2 linked regions of the Homo sapiens genome follow. The protein of the gene in region 1 interacts with the protein of each later gene in a biochemical or structural test. Each region holds a gene or a part of one and is shown in the gene's direction. Other genes may lie near its edges.

Region 1 (5,025 bases):
AGTTGACATTCCCTGAAGTTAAAAAGGATATGTGTACTCTTTAAATGCAAGGTAACATAATGGATTATTTCCATCTAATTATTAATATTTCTAATGATAATCATAGGTATGAAGGGAATGGATAGTATAATGAGAAAGGAGAGGGGGAGATAAAAATCTAAAAGTACTAAGGGCATGTTGGATATTGAAATTCACTACTTTCAAATATTATCATAAAACTTTGAGACAGTAACATTGCACCATTATTTTTCTTCTTTTAAAAACATTTTACTCATTGGTAAAGAGAATATAAACATTGTGGATAACTTTTTTAAAGTAATGGTTTGTTTTTTTTTTCTCCTTCCTCCTTTAAAGGAAGACATATTTTGTTTCTGAGCATGAATTATAATCAAAGTTCTGCTAATTTTTGGGCAAATTAATCCATTATATAATTACCTTCATTTATAAATCAATAATACCTTTACCATTCCCTTTCCAAAAGAACCATGCCTGGCAACATCAGGAACTAGCCAGATGTGTTTTGGAGGCTGCCTGGGGATCCCTTGTTAGACTTTTCGTTCCTTTATGAACCTCTTGCCTGTGGTCCAGCATTGAGCCTCTGCTTCCTTCCAAGCCTTTCCAGGCCAGGCACTTGCTTGTTCTCTCTCTTCTCTTCTCTCTTCTTTTTTCTCTCTCCCTTTCTCTTCTCTTCCCCCTTTTTCTTGTCTCACATTCATCTCAAGGTAACTTAAAGTCCATTTGTTATTCCTCTTAAAGTTATTTTTATTTTATTTTTTTGAGATGGAGTCTCACTCTGTTGCCCAGGCTGGAGTGCAGTGGCACAGTCTTGGCTCACTGCAACCTCTGCCTCCCGGGTTCAAGCAATCTCCTGCTTCATCCTCCAAAGTAGCTGGGATTACAGGTGTGCACCACCATGTCTGGCTAATTTTTGTATTTTTAGTAGAGATAGGGTTTCACCTTGTTGGCCAAGCTGGTCTCGAACTTCTGGCCTCAGGTGATACGCCCACCTTGGCTCCCCAATGTGCTAGGATTACAGGCATGAACCATTGCGCCCAACCTGAAAGTTATTTTAAATCTAGACCTTTATCTGAAATTGCAGAGTGTGAGATGTTTGTTCTCCATTTAAATGGGAACTTCAAATGTCTGAAGGGCTGCTTAGCAATGCTGTTGGGAATGACTGATGTTTGGAAGTGGTTGAATGCCTTCACACCCATCCATGCAGCATTCGTGAACTCTAGTAACTACAGAAGACCAATGCATATCCTGCCTGTGGTTCAGACCTGTGGGTAAGATTTGATCTGGCCACTCCTTTCATTACACTTAGAGATGTAGCTCCCACCCCATGGCTATGACTGGTCTTCGGCAGTGACAAATGCTCATCAGCATCACGTGGATGGGCATAAACTCACCTACCCACTTTCAAACATTAGTCATTCCCCACAGCGTGGCTCTTTGTAGATATGATATCAGTATCAAAAGCTTTGCTGTATCAGATTTCCGGGAATATATTTACCAGGAACCCTGGAGGAAAAAGAGATTAAATTAGGCAATGTTCATGCTATTTTTTTTTCCTAGAAAGCCCTTCCTTTCCCTTTTATGCTCTGTTCAATGGATATTTTCTTTGCTCCCTAGAGAGACACTGAAAAGGAAGGTTAGTGGGAACCGTTGCGCCAGCCCTGTTACTGGTCCAGGTTCAAAGAGGGATGCTCACTTCTGCGCTGTCTGCAGCGATTACGCATCGGGATATCACTATGGAGTCTGGTCGTGTGAAGGATGTAAGGCCTTTTTTAAAAGAAGCATTCAAGGTACAAGAGAATTGTTAACTGCTTCTTTAGTTTCCTACTTTTGATTTCAAACAATTTTGCAGAGATGACTTGGCAGAAATGTCACTACTGGCCTGTTTGGCACACAAAGTATTTGATGAGCAGTTCAGAGGATCATGTGTGTTTGGAAGTGGGTTGGGTGGTGGGGTGGAATTGCAGATTTCTACCCCAGAACCCCAAGATTATACAGCCAACTCGAATGGGTCTTACCCCTCGTTCACCCACATGGGTGTTGGATAGAAGACATCGAGTTACAACCTTGTGAAGATGTCTCTTGGAAAAAATGTGCTCACAAGGAGTTGCAAAGATTGTTTCTTTCTTTTACTTAAATTTAATATATAGCATGCTTAACAGTCATGATGGTGGGCTGGCTCCTGAGGAAGAAAGAATAAACACATTTTTTGGAAATGGTCAGAAATCAGGAATTCAGCTACAGTGGACTTTGAGAATTGATCTAGACACATTTCTTCCCCTAGGCTAGGAGGGTCTCAGTTCACAATCCCCTTGTTTTCTGGGCTGTGTTTAGATTATTTCCCTAACTTTCTCTAAACGCCTTCTGGATTTTTTTTTTTAAATCAACTTGTTGATGAAAAGAATCAAACTCTGTAAAATATTTGAAGAGATTTATTCTGAGCCAAATATGAGTGACAAATGGCCTGTGACATAGCCCTCAGGAGATCTGAGAACATGTGCCCAAGGTGGTCAGGCCACAACTTGGTCTTATACATTTTAGGGAGACATAAGGCATTAATCAATGCATGTAAGATGTACATTGATTCAGCCTGAAAAGGCAGGACACCTGAAAGCAGGGGCTTCCAAGTCACAGGCAGTTCAAAGATTTTCTGATTGGCAATTGATTGAAAGAATTATTATCAGTAGGAAGCAATGATTGGGTTACAATAAGGGATTGTGGAGACCAAGGTTTTATCATGCAGATGAAGCCTCCAGGTAGCAGGCTTCAGAGAGAATAGATTGTAAATATTTCTTAGGGGTCTTAAAGGGTCTGTTCTATCAGTGATTCCAAAAGGGGAGGGAGGGTATAATGAACCATGTCTGTCTCCCTTGTTCCATCATGGCCTAAACTTATTTTTCAGGTTAACTTTGTAATGCCCTTGGCCAAGAGGAGGGACCCATTCAGATGGTTGAGGGGCCTTAGAATTTTATTTTTTGGTTTATAAACTTCAAGTTGTGCACCCCTGATTTCAAGGCTGGTCAGCTCATCTCCCTGCATGTGTCTTTGCTACACTCCTTCTCTCGTACCAGCCCTGATTTGCTGAAGTCACTTTCTTGCTTACTCTTGTTTTCTCTATTTGCCCCATAACCTGTCCCTCAACTGCTCCCTCCCAGGCAACACCCTATGTTTCCATCTGAAAGCTCCCTTCCTTTTTCTATCAAAGCCCCAATGCTTTGTTCTTTGCCAGTTAAGAAAAGCAACGTTGAGAGAATTCATAGTGTGTAAATGGCAAATAGCAATTTACTAAATTAACTCACCCATTGATAACTCTAAGAGGATGTTTTACCTTAAGCAGAGAAATACTGATAGAATCCAGGATATGGTGAGGAGTGAAATGTTGGTAGTCACCTTCCTACCTGTCCCCTGAAATTCACCCTGTATGAATGGCAGCCTCTTTGTCCTGGATTTTATAATTACTAGCTCTGCGACTTCACCTCCTAGCCTGTTTCCTCCTCTGTGAAATGGAGATACTCATAGGGATTTTCTAAAGATGAAATAAGGTTGATTATATGAAAACATATTCAGTGCTCAAATATTTTATTTGTGACAATCTTAACAGTAGATTATAAGGCCAAGTCCATTTCCTGGCTATATGATAAGAACAATATTGATTTTCTGAAATTCTGAACTGAATTCTTGATACGATGACTATTTTGTATCTTGCTGAGTTTCTAGGATTTTACCCCTTAAGAACGTTTGGACCTATTACTACTAACCATATCTTTTAAAAAGAGATCCTTCTTTTTTTTTTTTGCTTTTGGGGAAACATTGGTCTGCTTGAAACATCTTTGACCCCTGAGACTACAGCTAATAACAATTGAAAGTAAATTTCCTTTGCTTCTCTATGTTGTTTCTTCCTTCCTGCTGCATCAGACAGGAATGTCAAATTCTAAATGTGCAAAGAGGAAAGAGTTAAAGCTGTTACAGTTGTACAGTTGTAGTGCCTAAATGATCCTTTCTTTGCATGCTTCCTGTCTTTGATATAAGTGCATTACAGTAACTGAAAGTGGCCACTTATTTTTAAAATTGTCTCAAATAGGCCAGGATGGTACAGTATTGAGAAATTCCTTGCATGTAACTTTTTTTTTTTTTTTTTTTTTTTTGGAGATGGAGTCTCATTCTGTCACCCAGGCTGGAGTGCAGTGGCACAATCTCGGCTCACTGCAAGCTCTGCCTCCCAGATTCACACCATTCTCCTGCCTCAGACTCCCAAGTAGCTGGGATTACAGGAGCTGGCCACCACACCCTGCTAATTTTTTGTATTTTTAGTAGAGACAGGGTTTCGGCATGTTAGCCAGGATGGTCTCGATCTCCTGACCTTGTGATCCGCCCGCCTCGGCCTCCCAAAGTGCTGGGATTACAGGTGTGAGCCACCGCACCTGGCCCATTCTTATGTTTTTTATAATTTTAAACTTGTCTTGCTAACTTGATTTATAAGCTAATTGACCATATCTTAGTCATGTACCTGTCCCCTTCACTGTACAAATGCACTGGAAGCTGTGTTGTGCTTGCTTTTCCATTGATACTTTGTTGGCTTCTTCACACAATGAGTTGCCATCAGAGTGATAAGTGCTGTTGTTTCTCTACTGGGTTATGGAGCACAGAGGAAGGAGGACATAGGGAGAAGGACCTCATCACTTCATCTGGTCCAGATGACAGCATGGCTTATTTTTTGAGCTTATCCTTTACTTTTTGTTCTCTTTCCTATTGGTGTTCATTTAACAAATATTTATTGAGCATTGTACCAGGCTCTACGGATGCAGTGGTGAACAAGACAATAGATTATAGATTCCATGAGGGCAAGGATTTTTGTCCATTTTGTTCACTAGTGGCACTTACCAATTCCTTGAATATGATTTTTCAAAATTAATTGGGCTTATACACAGAGTTCTGTATCATTTTTCACTTAATATTGTCGTATAAGCATTTCTGTTGTTAAATTTCCAGAGACCCTTTTCACAACTGCAC
Region 2 (4,919 bases), on another chromosome or scaffold:
CTGGCCTTGACCCGGTAGCCACCTCGGCAGCGGTGCTGAAGGCCGAGGGTCTGCATCCCACTGACGGCCAGCTCCACGGGGGTCTTCATGCTGCCTGTGGTCCCTGGTGACAGCAGGTGTGCTCTGCCGGCCAGGCCCTGCTTCCGAGGCTCCCTGTGAGAGGAGGTCAGAGTAGCACCCCTGAGCCACAGAAGTGCTAATGGAGGAAGACCGGTAGTGTCTGAAGTTCTCATCCCAAGGGTTTAGTTCTCTCTCAACCAGTCTCTCAAAGGGGAGCTGTCAACTTCAGGGGGCATTTTGGAAATTTCTTTGGCTTTTTTTTAGTTGTCATAATGGTGGTGAAAGGGGGGCTACTGGCAATTATTTACAGAATGACTCTGGCGGTGAAGGAGAGATGACACCTGTGTCTATTTAGGCACCAACCAGAAAACACACTATGGTGGTAGGGGAGACAGGCACTTTCCTATGTGTACTGATGGGGGTGGGGGCAATGACAGCCAGCGTGGATCCCATGCCTACCTCCTGCAAAGAGCTTTACAAGCATTGTTTCATTTAATCCTCTCAACAGCACTGTGAAGTAGCTTCGAATTTGTCCATTTTACGGATCACAAAACTGAGGTGAAGTCACATGTGTAGGTCACACCTATAAAGCTAAAACGGTGGAAGTGAAATCTGAGTCCAGAGCTTGTGTACTTGGCTACACTGCTATCGGGAGATCACCGCCGCCCCCACCGCCCCACATTCTGCGACTCCCAAATCAATGACCCGATTAAAAAGTGCCCGAGGTCCCTGCATTTTTGGGTTGTTCTCCTACCTGAGCATCTTGGCTCGTAGGCATCGGGATCCTCAGGGACCCGTCCCCGCACCTTCTTCCCACCAGGTCTGGACCCGTCGGTGAGGGCGCGGGGGCGCGCGGTGCATCCGGGATCCCCGTCAATCTGCAGCCCGGAATGCCTGGGGCCCCGGACCCCCGGCAGCCTAGGCCGTCCCGGGGCACCGCGCGCGGACGGACTCACCCGAGGAGCCGGCACAGGCTACGTGTGAACGGCCCGCGAATCCAGAAACCCAGAACCCAGCACTTTGCACCCAGCAACCAGGGAGCAGCCAGCAGCACTGCGGACGCGGCCCGGACCATTCGCGCCCGCGGATGGGGGGAGTCCGCCCAGGGGCGGGCGCCACGCTCCTGAGGCCCAGGAGGTCCCTAAACATGGAGAGGGTCCTCTGGTGCCACTCACTCAGGTGCGTGTGTACTAGGCCGCCGAGGGCCGCAGGCACTGGCGAAAGCTCAGCGGAGGTCACGTGGTCACCGCACCTCCCCCCCCCCCACGCAGTTGGTGCGCTCCTCAGGCCACGCCCCCTTCTGCGTTCCCAGCGCGCGGCCCGAATGGCGGCCGACAAGGGCCCGGCGGCTGGACCTCGGTCGCGAGCTGCCATGGCCCAGTGGAGGAAGAAGAAAGGGCTCCGGAAGCGCCGAGGCGCGGCCTCCCAGGCCCGCGGCAGCGACTCGGAGGACGGCGAGTTTGAGATCCAGGCGGAAGATGACGCCCGGGCCCGGAAGGTAGGCGCGTGGGGCTGGGACGCATGTTCGGGCCCGAGACCCGGCTCCGGGCAGCGCCTCGAGGCCTCAGTTTCCCCAGCTGGGGATTGGGCTCCGCAGAGTGTGGGGAGGGAGGCTGCCGACCCGAGGACCGGTCTTGGGACCGCCGGCCTGAGCACGTGTCTCGGGGCTTGTCAGGCTCAGGGTTCCGCGGCCAGAGCCTTGGGATCCCGGGGCTGGAGCCTGCGGGCCTTCCTGCCGGGTTTTGGTCGCGCGTCTCTCATTGGCTGCCTCCTGCTCGTGGGGCGGATCCTGGCTCCCTTTCGCCCAATGAAAAGTGCGGGTGCAGAAGATCTGACTTTGAGAGTTTGGAGCGTTCTTGGGAGGTTGAATTAAGGGGAGGCCAGACTGCGTGGCTTGAGACAGTGTGACGCCTCCAAACCTCTGGGAAACGAATTAAAACAATTTTTTTTGAGACAGAGTCTTGCTCTGTTGCTCATGCCGGAGTGCAGTTGTGTAGCCACGCCTTGCTACAGCCTCCGCCTCCTGGGCTCAAGCGATCCTCCCACGTCAGCCTCTCCGGTAGCTGAGACCACAGACATGCGCCACCACGCCCGGATAATTTTTAAATTTTTTGTAGAGACGGGGGTCTCCCTATGTTGCCCAGGATGGTCTCGAACTTCTGGCCTCAAGCAGTCCTCCCACTTCTGCTTCCCAAAGTGTTGGGATTAACAGGCGTGAGCCCGGCCAGTTTGTGTTTGTTGACCGTTTACTATGTGCCAGGCTCCATGCTAAGAGCTGTACGAGCCTTATTATTTAATCCTCACACCAACGTTGTGCTAACACCACCAGCAACTGTCATCTTCATTTTTCTACAGGAGGAAACTGAGGCCTAGAGGGTTAAGAAATAGTCAAAGGCCTGGTGTAGTGGCTACACGCCTGTAAACCCAGCACTTAGGGAGGCTGAGGTGGGAGGATTGCTTGAGGTCAGGAGTTCAAGATCAGCCTGGGCAACATAGGCAGACCCCGTCTCTACAAAAAATTAAAAAATTAGGATGGCCGCGGTGGCTCACGCCTGTAATCCCAGCACTTTAGGAGGCTGAGGCAGGCGGATCACCTGAGGTCGGGAGTTCAAGACCAGCCTGGCCAACATGGTGAAACCCTGTCTCTACTAAAAATACAAAAATAGCCAGGTGTGGTGGCATGTGCCTGTAATCCCAGCTACTCGGGAGGCTGAGGCAGGAGAATCGCTTGAAACTGGGAGTCAGAGGTTGCAGTGAGCCGATATTGCACCACTGCACTCCAGCCTGGGTGACAGAGCAAGACTCTGTCTCAAAAAATAAAAATTAGCCTGGCTTGGTGGCGCCCACCTGTGGTCCCACCTCCTGGAGAGGCAATGTGGGAGGATCACTTAAACCTGGGCGGCGGAGAGTACAGTGAGCTGTGGCTACACAACTGCACTCCATCATAAGCAACAGAGCAAGACTCTGTCTCCAAAAAAAGAAAAAAAAAAAAAAGGGAGATCCCATCTTTACAAAAAAAGAGAGAAAGCAGCTTGACCAAGACCTCACAGCTTGTGAGTACAAGAGCCAGGAGATTCAAACTTGAGACTGTCTGATTCCAAGGCCTGTGCCGTTTCCATTACTGAATGTCATGTGTATGCACATGAAGGGATGGGTGTGAGCACCAATGGGGCAGAAGGGCTGCGCCCATTATTTCCCACAGTCCTGTTCCCAGCGGGTGCCTGGCACCAGGTAGGCTCAGGGCAAGATGAGTAAGTGGACATTTATATGAAGAGAAAGGATCACACTCCAAGGCAGGAACTAGAAGAGACCTCATCCCACTGTCCCTCTCTCATCTTCCAGCCTAGCCAGTACCTGGCACACAGTAGGTGCTCAACAAATGTAGAGAAACTACTAAAGGTAATGAACAGCACAGGCGGGCAGAGGTGGTTATTACCAAAGAAGAGGAGTCTAAGTGTAGTTCAGACCAAGGGCTTCTCACGGCACTGCCCTGTGTTCAAATTTGGCCCAACCTTGCACTGGCTGTGGGACATTGGAGAGGTTGCTTAACCTCTCTGTGCCCGTTTCCACATCCGTAGAAGGCAAGTAAATGATTATATATGTTTCAAAGGTTGTTGGCCCGGTGCCGTGGCTCATGCCCGTAATCCCAGCACTTTGGGAGTCCGAGGAGTGAGGATCACTTGATGCCAGGAGTTCGAGACCAGCCTGGGCAACATGCATGGCGAGACTGCATCTACAAAAAATACAAAAATTAGCCAGGCATGGTGGTGTGTGCCTGTAGTCCCAGCTACTTGGGAGGCTGAGGTGGGAGGATCACCTGAGCTAGGTGAGCCGTGATTGCCCCACTGCACTCCAGCCTGGGAGACTGAGTGAAACTCTGTCTCAAAAAAAAAAAAAAAGTGTTGAAAAGACCAAAGGAGGCTGGGCGTGGTGGCTCATGCCTGTAATCCGAGCACTTTGGGAGGCCAAGGTGAGCGGATCACTTGAGGTCGGGAGTTTGAGACCGGCCTGGCCAACATGGTGAAACCCCATCTCTACTGAAAATACAAAAATTAGCCGGGCTGGTGGCATGTGCCTGTAGTCCCAGCTAGTTGGGAGGCTGAGGCAGGAGAATTGCTTGGACCCAGGAGGTGGAGGCTGCAGTGAGCCAAGATCCTGCCACTGCACTCCAGCCTGGGTGACTGAACGAGACTGTCTCAAAAAAAAAAAAAGAAGAAGACTGAAGGACATGCTGTTCATACATTCAGTAGCTATTGCAGGCGCCTGTGTGTCCCAGGCACCTTGTTTTCATGTACCTAGAGCAGGGGTTGGCAGACCTATCAAGGGCCAGATGGTAAATCTTTTTTTTAGGTTTTGTTGGGCCATATAAGATCACTGTCTTTTTTGTTGGATTTCTTTTTCTTTTCTACAACCCTTTAAAAAGTAAAAACCGTTCTAAACTCACAGACTGTTCAAGACAGGCCATGGCTCTGCCCTAGAGGATTGTAGTTAATCTTAGAGGGTCACAGTGAAAAGAACACAGTCTCTGAAGCCAGGGTTCACATCCCTCACCCACTACCTGCTGGCTGTGTGACCTTGGGCACGTCACTGTATCTCTGTGCCTCAGTTTTCTTCTCTGTAAAATGGACAGAACAATAGTACCCACTTCATCAGATTGTTGTGAGGATTAAGTGGGTTAATTTGTATAATTCTCAGAGCAGCACCTAGCTTATAGTAGATACCTTGTAAGTTTCAGCCACTCTTATGAATTGCTGCTCCGTAAATGCTTTTTTTTTTTTCTTTTTTGGTAAAGATGGGGTTTTACCATGTTGCCCAGGCTAGTCTGGGAACTCCTGGGCTCAAATGATCCACCCACCTCA

The links. The genes of interacting proteins can lie anywhere in the genome.
Region 2: the proteins of ESR2 (region 1) and DDX54 form a complex in vitro, tested with the Homo sapiens proteins (one study listed by BioGRID).

The regions. Positions count from the first base shown.
Region 1 is NC_000014.9:64,276,761-64,281,785, reverse strand, and holds part of ESR2 (estrogen receptor beta), read left to right. Parts: intron 1-1,632; coding exon 1,633-1,805; intron 1,806-5,025.
Region 2 is NC_000012.12:113,181,917-113,186,835, reverse strand, and holds the start of DDX54 (ATP-dependent RNA helicase DDX54), read left to right. Parts: upstream 1-1,357; 5' UTR 1,358-1,384; coding exon 1,385-1,558; intron 1,559-4,919. Other genes in the region: RITA1 (RBPJ-interacting and tubulin-associated protein 1), read right to left, coding at 1-153, 815-822.